2 separate regions of the Homo sapiens genome follow, and region 2 is linked to region 1. The links come from fine-mapping of genetic effects on gene expression. A gene starts in region 1. The other region holds a variant in brackets. All regions are shown on one strand. Distances are from middle to middle.

Region 1 (4,413 bases):
ATTCTTCTTGTTTTATTTTATGATGTAAGTGACTAATTTGGTCCCAAAGACTCTTTATTCCATTGCTAATGCCACATAGGGGAAACTGAGACTATAGATAGTTTTCTTAACAGTCATTTTTTGGCATCATCTATATATTTTCTATAGGATAAAGATAAAGGTAAAAGGACATAAAGAGTAGTTAAAAGAAATAAGTAAGGACATTGACAACTGGCAGATAAGCCAAAGCACATTTTGAGGAATCTAAACAACCCATTATTCTGGCATTTACTTCTAAATTGCTCCAACTTAATCTGAAGGATGAGATGTAAAACCAAAGACAGATCTTGGCATTCATAACATATATTCTCTTGTCAACACTTTAGAGGTGCATATTTTGTGTACTAATGAAATGATTGTAATGTCTCACATTGTCTCAGTTCTATAGTAGAGTTAGGACAGGCACTATGCAATCTTAAGTAGAATTTCAGCTATGTGAGAGTAGCCATGAATTTGCAATAAAAGGTGTAGGCACCACATTTACTTTTCCTATAATCCTACTATTAGATAACACATATAAGAGCTGCTATTTATTTTGTCATTTGTTTCCATCCTAGAAGAAAGCAAAAGAGAATTTTGAAGGTACAATGTATCACATTTAGAGCAACCTTTAGGTCTGTAGCTCATCAGACTGGCTTTTAAAATATGCAAGCATTCCAGGTTAAAAGTCTCTAAATAACTTCATGTCATTTTACTGTTAAATAATGTTTAGAGTTTGCTATCTTTTGTAGACCTTGGAAATCTAATTATTTATAATGTCCAGTGACATTTACATTTTGCTAAATATACTCTGCTTGTACAAGAACATCTCATGATTAGAAAAATGGGTAGAGAATGCCTGGCTGTACATATGCTTCTATATAATGCAAAAATATCAGGGTGACACATGTTATCTTTTTGTTATAGTTTCGTGATTTTAAAACATAATTCTCAAAAAGTTTTTAACTATTAGCATTTAAAATACAGAATAAGAAAAAGTTATCATAGTTGAGATCAGTGTTTACCATTTAACTCTCCACTATCAAATCAAATATCTATTCAAGTTTATTGGTATCTTAACATAATACCATTCATTTCCATGCCAACAGCTCCTGAGTGTTTGGCTTAGTTTTTGAGATTGATTGAAGGTAGATTGTAAAGTTGACCTATTGTGTTAAGCTTATTTACACAAACACAGTGCCTTGGAAAATCAACTCTGGAAGTCCATAGCAGTTGAATCCTAAGGTATTGCACATCCTAAGTTTTCTAATACCTGCTTTATAGAAATCCCTTGGGTGGTGAATCTCAACTTTGCCAGTTACCTTACCTGGGGGAAATTACTTCAACATTCCTAAATTTGAAGTAAAATTTAGGAATTGCTTTAGGACAAAGGATTTGCCTTTAATTTCATTTGACCAATTTGCTTAAGTAAATAATTTATCATTTCTATCAAATTTATGAGACAGTCACAGATGAACTTTTTTTTTTCAGGCTCTTGAAACACACTTTTCTTAAAAGAGTTTAAAAATAACATCCCTAAGATATAAGCAATAGAAAAAGACTTAATTTTGAAAAAAACCTTATGGCAACAGTGAAAAACAGAATTTGGATTCTGGATGGTTACAAATAGATTATTTTCAAAAGAAGTTGGATTTATTCAACTTAGGTCAATTTATCTTGGTAAGAATTTAAAAGCGCTTTCTGATGCCACATCCTTGTCTGTCACCTATTCTTAAATAATCAGTCTATGTCATCACCCCTCCCGAACTCCCCATTTCCCCCATCAAAATGTGGACTTCTCTCCTGCTGCTGAGTAACGTGGGGCTGGTTATGACTGGGAGGGAGGATGGGAGCGAGGCACGTGGACCAGAAATACTTCCTAGAAACAGCAAGTACGCTGCTCAACCCTGCCTGAACTTTCCTGTAAACAGCCACTGACAGACTGCATCCCTGCTGGGTGGATCCTGCGACTCCTAGAGGGAATGGCACTTCTTGTTTTTAATTAGCAAGGTGAAAGGTGAATTAAAACTAGCAGTTTGGCAAGTCAGTGCAAGAGGCTGACTTCTGAGAGGCTTCCAGGAGCCCGAAGAGAGGACCTCCACGGGAGAAGGGAGTGCGTGTGCTCGGTTTTGTTTTTTTCTCTCTTTTTTTTTTTTTTTTCTGAATGAACAGCTTTGCCCAAGTGACTGAAAAATACAGCTTCTTCCTGAATCTACCGGCGTAGTTGCTGAAGAGCGCTCTAGACAGGACATGGCTCTGAAGACTCACTCTTTGGAATGTCCTCTTGCTCCCGGCTTATAAACAACTGTCCCGAGGAAAGAAAGGTTTTACATAGCCAAATACAGCCTGACAAATGGCACTTCGGAACTGTGCTTTCTGATGACAACGCGTTCGATTTCTGACAAAGCCTCTCGCACGCTGCCCCTGGAGGGAAGTCCTAAGTAAAACTCAGACCCTCCTTAAAGTGAGGAGCGAGGGCTTGGACGGTGAACACGGCAGCATGGCATCCGCGGGGCACATTATCACCTTGCTCCTGTGGGGTTACTTACTGGAGCTTTGGACAGGAGGTCATACAGCTGATACTACCCACCCCCGGTTACGCCTGTCACATAAAGGTAGGTTACCTTTCCAGATCCTTTTGTTTAAAAAAAAAAAAAAAGAAAAAGAAAAAAGAAAAAAAAAGTCGTTTAACATTAACATAGGCTTATGGTCTTCAAAGACCTTTAAAATGCACCTGAAAAATTTATTGCAAAACTGACCTAAAATTCTAAGTACCTCTGATTAATGTGTCATACTCACCTCATCTGAAAACAGTGCAAAATCACATGTCAACTTAGAGATGTTATTTTTGTCTGTAAACATTGGATTTTATCAATAAGGAGTTCACTCACTAGCCCGCGGAACACAGGAAGGGAGGAAGCAGGTTGAAAATAGCCTTGAGAGGCTGAATCCACCAAGTTAACAGTAGATATTTAAATATCAGTTTATGCATATGAGAAACAAGGATGCTGGGAAAGGGCTATAGAAATAGGGGTGCAATTTGTTCTTTTTGTTTTTGTTTTGTTTTGTTTCCATAATGGAGGTAAGAGGAGAAAATAAAAATCCCGAGGAGAAAAATGATGCCCTACCCATAACTGTCATCATCATGTAATTAAAATGATTAACAACTAATATAAATTAGTTTTCCAGTTGAATTGATTATTAGAATTTTTTCATGTGTGGCAAAGGAAAATAGTTTATGACAATGCTTGTAAAATGGCTAATATGGATTAAAGTATTAGTATTCACTAGCATTTGTAGTGTAAATTTATATTGCCTTAATGAAGATCTAACAGCAAATGTTTAAATATTTCATTCTACAATTGTCTTGTAAAGCAACATCATACTCATAAATAAATGATTAAAAGATAGATTTTGCATCAGGACCAATACAAGCCAGTCATGAATAGGTTTGGTAATTCCTCCTGTAAACAAACAAATAATAAACAAAACCATGCTCAGAGAAAGTGACTTTGCTGACTTAATATAAATTCGGAATAAATTGTCAGCAAAGAAGTATTTATTATCACTAGCCATTGACACATTGAGACAGATAGCAGATGTAATACTCAGGATTACATAAGAATCATTTTTCAATTGTGTAAGCTTTTAAATTGTCCCCCACTGTAGAAAGAACAGAAGCTTGTATTTTCTAAGTACAGGTAGAATATTTATCAGGAGAAACAAAAAGGGAGTCCTCAATTTTATGTGACACGTTTGGCCTTTTTGTCTTTTTATTGGACAATCTTCAGTAAATGTTGACTATAGAAATTTTTTCATTTTTAGAATAGTGGATGTTTTCTTAGTTTAAATAGATTTCCTATAATACTATCCAGTAGATAATATAAATTTAAGAAATCCATTGATACTAAATTGGTAAAGTGTTTAAAATATAGTGCCCAGAATTAACACTAATCTTTTAACTTGGGAAGATGTATCATGGTATGTATCAAAATGCCTATTTCTAAGAAGTTTATCATCAAAGATGTCAACATGTACAAATTTGATGTGATGGAATATGGACAAATAAAAATGCAAAAAAATATAATTGATTGTTTTTCTTATGTAGACAAGTAGATAAGCTGCCAGTTTTTGCAAGCTACAATTCTGTTATATCTAGTATTAACATTTTATACCCTATTATTGGGGTACTTGTGTTTTCATGGTTCAATATCAGTGTGTTTTCCAACAGGTCACATTTTAATATTTCATAAGAGAGTTAATAATTTGATCAAAAAATACCAAAGTTCTCTGATACAAGTAAATGTTATGCATAATACTATTATCGAGTTCATCTTTATTATGTCACTTATATTCAAAGAAATAATTGTAACTGATGTTATGAGTGGTGTCATA
Region 2 (4,413 bases), 120 kb after region 1:
GCAAACATGAAAGAAAAATATGGATATTTGAAGATGTCTCTATTAAGAATATTCCAATTGGCTGGGAACGGTGGCTCACGCCTGTAATCCCAGCACTTTGGGAGGCCAAAGTGGGCAGATCGCTTGAGGTCAGGAGTTCGAGACCAGCCTGGCCAACGTAGTGAAACCCCATCACTACTAAAAATACAAAAATTCACTGGGCATGGTGGCACGCACCTGTAATCCCAGCTACTCTGGAACCAGAGGCTGAGGCAGGAGAATCACTTGAACCCAGGAAGCAGAGGTTGCAGTGAGTCAAGATTGCATCACTGCACTCCAGCCTGGGTGACAGAGCAAAACTCCATCTCGGAAAAAAAAAAAAAAAAAAAAAGAATATTCCAATCAAGAAGCACACATGCACACAAATAACTTGTTAAAAAAAAAAAAACTATGAATTTTCCCAACTTGTTTACTCCTTGTTTGATTTTCTTACAAAGTAGAAATAAATATTTATACTTGAACAAATAAAATATTAACTTTAGATGCTTAATTATAGAGTCATTTTAATGGTAAGCACATATTAGGGCAAGATGATTTTATTTTATAAATATGTTTTATTGATAATGTGTACTAAGATAAAACTTTTCATGCTATTGCAAATACTACATTCTGTTTCTTAAAAATAATCCTTGGTAATTTTATTGGAAAATGTCTGTGTGTATGTGAAAATGTACGTATGTGTTTTTGTGTGTGATGTATAAAATAAATTATAAAATATTAATTACTTTATAAAATACAAACTACATCAAATTCATGTCTGCTGACTATCTAGAACCTTGAATTTTTTTTTTCCCCCGACGGAGTTTCACTTTTGTTGCCCAGGCTGGAGTACAGTGGCGCAATCTTGGCTCACTGCAGCCTCCGCCTCCCGGGTTCAAGTGATTCTCCTGCCTCAGCCTCCCTAGTAGCTGGGATTACAGGCATGCACCACCACACCTGACTGATTTTTTGTATTTTTAGTAGAGATGGGGTTTCACCATTTTGGTCAGGCTGGTCTCGAACTCCTGACCTCAGGGGATCCACCCGCCTCAGCCTCCCAAAGTGTTGGGATTACAGGCATGAGCCACCACGCCTGGCCAAACCTTGAATATTTTTAAAAAGAATATATATTGGAAATTGTTTCACGTAGAATGAATAAAATTTACTCCTGCCTTTTAATGGCTATATACTGTTCCATTGTAAAATTCTTCAGTGATTTGTTTAACCAATACCTATATATGTAGTATCAACTTTAGCACTGAAGACTTTTTATGATAACATTAATAAAAGTTTTTTCTGATATTTGTTTATAGTGAGAGGCAGTATTACAAAGTGGTTCTGAAGACATATTTTTAGGCAGAATACTTGATTTATGTTCTGCTACTGGTTATTTAAGACGTTTTAAAAATTAATTTTTTTGTTCTTCAGTTTTCTAATCTATAAAATGGAGAAAATCATATTACCTACTCACAGGGTTATTGTAATGAATAATAAGCAAGGTTAAAGGCCTTAGAGTAGTAGCAGGAACCTTATAGTAAACAATCAACAACATTAAATCTAGATCTGTGCCCACTGAATGTAAGTTTCCTTCTCATCAATGATTCTCTTTTGATCACTGCATTATGCCCACGGCCTAGAAAAGTTGACAGCACATAGAAAATATGATTGAGTAAAATTTGAACTCAAATATGATGTGTTTATACATACAGAAAAATGACTATATTTAATAATTTATGTAATAATTTTTAGATTATAAATAAATATTAAGTGGGCTTTACTACAGATGGAGAGAAGAAAGTATAATCCGATATAAAGATTTGGGAAGGGGAGAGAAGGAGAGATGGAGGGAAAGGGAGAAATCAAGGGCATACGAATGCCCAAATTTTCCTTTTCTAAATGCTTGACCCAATTAGAGTTGAGTTTGCACTATTGAGAGAATACTAATACTTGATTTTTGCTTAGTATCCCTACCTAGCATTTCAGTTCAATGGATTCCAGCCACTTGGTTAGGGTCTCTATCACTCTGCTCAGCTTTTTTCTGACATCTTTCCAGATAACAGTATATCCTGGATAGACTAGCTAAAGTCAAGTATGAATGATCTAACTCTTGGCTATTTTAAGATTAAAGTCTCTTCGTATGCATAGATTACCTGGGTTCACAAAATGTTTGTAAATTTTTTGGAAGTCAAGATCTAATCTTCATAAGGAATTGAATCTCCTTACAATATGCTTTTATGTTTATTTTATAAAACATATTTGCTAGTTTTTGACGGGCAGCTCAAATTACCATAATTACCAAGAGTATACAGAAACAGCTATTAACTCCTCTATACCTTGGTTAATGTCTTCATGAATCAGTCACTCTTAGAAAGAAA[G/A]CAAGGTCATGGGCAAACTAGGACAAATGTATTAACACAATAACTGAAGTACAGTTTTAGGCCATGATGCTATTCATAACGTGCATGCCAAGTTAGAGTGCTCCGTGGTAGAAATGACCTTTCATCCCCTTTATCAAGCATGTAATTTTCTAGTCATCTGAAGAGCTGCTTCTCCTGGTAGTTGTAAATTCTTTAATTACTATTTTAAACACTTATGTTGCATTCCAATGATTACTATGTGAATGATTTCAAATACTCTACCAGAATGTTAACTTATAATGAGGGTAAATGGGCAACTTGAATACTCTTTTAAGCTCAGACCTTGTCTGGAAGATTTTTGTAGAGATATGACACTTTCATCATCTAAAAAGTATTTACCTCTCCACTTGAGCATATTTTTCACGTATTTAAACCCTTTATAGTATAATTCATTAAAAAATCTAAAAGACTATCTGAAGGTAGAGAACACTAATAAATCATTTTTTCATTTAAATGTTATTGCATCCTTTTTGTTCTGATAATATTCTCTTTCTGAAAATGTATTTGTTTCAAAGATTTATTAAAAATTTGAGACCCTAATTATGTTAACTAGATTATATTTTATTTTATTGGTCATAGTTTGCAAGTGGAGTTGGTAAGTTAAAATGTTGAAAACATTAAAGATTTGGATAAGAATAGCTTTTATAATGAAGACTTAGGTTTTACTTTTCCAGTCTTTTCTTGCCTGTATAGATAATTGAATGAGTATTTAATATTAAAATCAATAGTAAATTGAACTTATAAAGAAATTTTGGCAATATTACTTATCTATGCCAAGCTTCGTGCTCTTGTTAACCACACCTTATAATTGACAGTTTACTACTTGAACGATTTTCATGGTCTGATCTCTCATAAATCCCAGCTAGTCTTAAACAGTCCTTATCATCAGTTCCAACAAAGCTCCTATTCAATCCCTGATAATATTGTATTTCTATTCTAACTTCAAAGAAATAGATGAAAATATCGGTTGCTACACTTGTGATTTTTGATATTTCAAGTTTTAAATTATTTTTCAAGATTTATTTTTGTTTGAGTTTCCCAAGTTAGAAATGCTTCATAGCTCATTTGCTAAAGATTAGTTTTTATAATGTATATTATGTAGAGACTTTAAATTTTATTTATATTCAGTATTGTCAGTAGGCTAACTTAGATGACAGTTACTTTTTCCTACCAAAAAGGGCATTATAGTAAGAATTCTGACAAAAATTATATGTAAGAATATATTTTATAGGTTCAGTAATTCAGTGTAAATCAAATAATCATTTTCATTATATGTATAGACATGGGTTATAACGTTTTTGTTTAAAAGGTCATCTGTCTTATTATAACTAACTTATTCTTTTTCTTGGTTTTCTTAACCTTAGATGTTTAAGTACTCAATTACTTTAGGCAGAAAACAGGTTTTAAATATAATCACTGTGTAAATATTTTTATATTAATTGCCACAAATGATATAAGTTGTTTCCCAAAATATCACTAATGACAACAAACAAAAAAAAAATCACAAAAATTCTACGTAAATATTGACAATATATATGATTCTGGGAAAATACTTCATGAAAATGCTATCTTAGCTCAAGAAGTCTTTGCTACCAATTATGATTGAAAATTGCCAATCTCAAGGATGAAATATTGAAACCCCAAAGCTGATCTGCACTTACAGCTTCCAATGTTTAAGTATAAATATCTTTGAATATATATATCTGAGGCTTTACAACTAGGGTGTAGTTGTAACCTAAATTCTTGAATACCTAAGATAATTGAGCAGGAGTTGGCAGAAGCAGGGACCTAACTGTCATATACTCCATAGGAGCAGGGTTTAATGCTTAAATGGTCATAGTGCTGCCGATGGCCTAGACTTCCTTTCTCCTTATTTGTCCACCTACTCCAAGGAATGAGTAAAGCCTTGGGAGAAGATCACTGGTGGTTGTATTAGTTTTCTAGGGCTGCCATAACAAAGTACCACAAGTGGAATTGCCTT

Evidence for each region. PIP is the estimated chance that this variant, and not a neighbour inherited with it, causes the effect.
Region 2: its variant is the best candidate, but not a certain one, in a credible set for the expression of SEMA3E in lung (TOPMed, PIP 0.52).

Annotation. Positions count from the first base shown.
Region 1 is chr7:83,646,648-83,651,060 of GRCh38, reverse strand. It overlaps SEMA3E (semaphorin 3E), which reads left to right and starts at 1,922. Exons shown (of 17, transcript NM_012431.3): 1 at 1,922-2,633. The coding sequence starts at 2,519.
Region 2 is chr7:83,527,299-83,531,711 of GRCh38, reverse strand. All of the region lies in intron 1 of SEMA3E (semaphorin 3E), which reads left to right. Among named protein-coding and RNA genes, the nearest start is that of SEMA3E, 120 kb to the left of the region's middle. The variant G/A (reference allele first, on the strand shown) is at 2,394.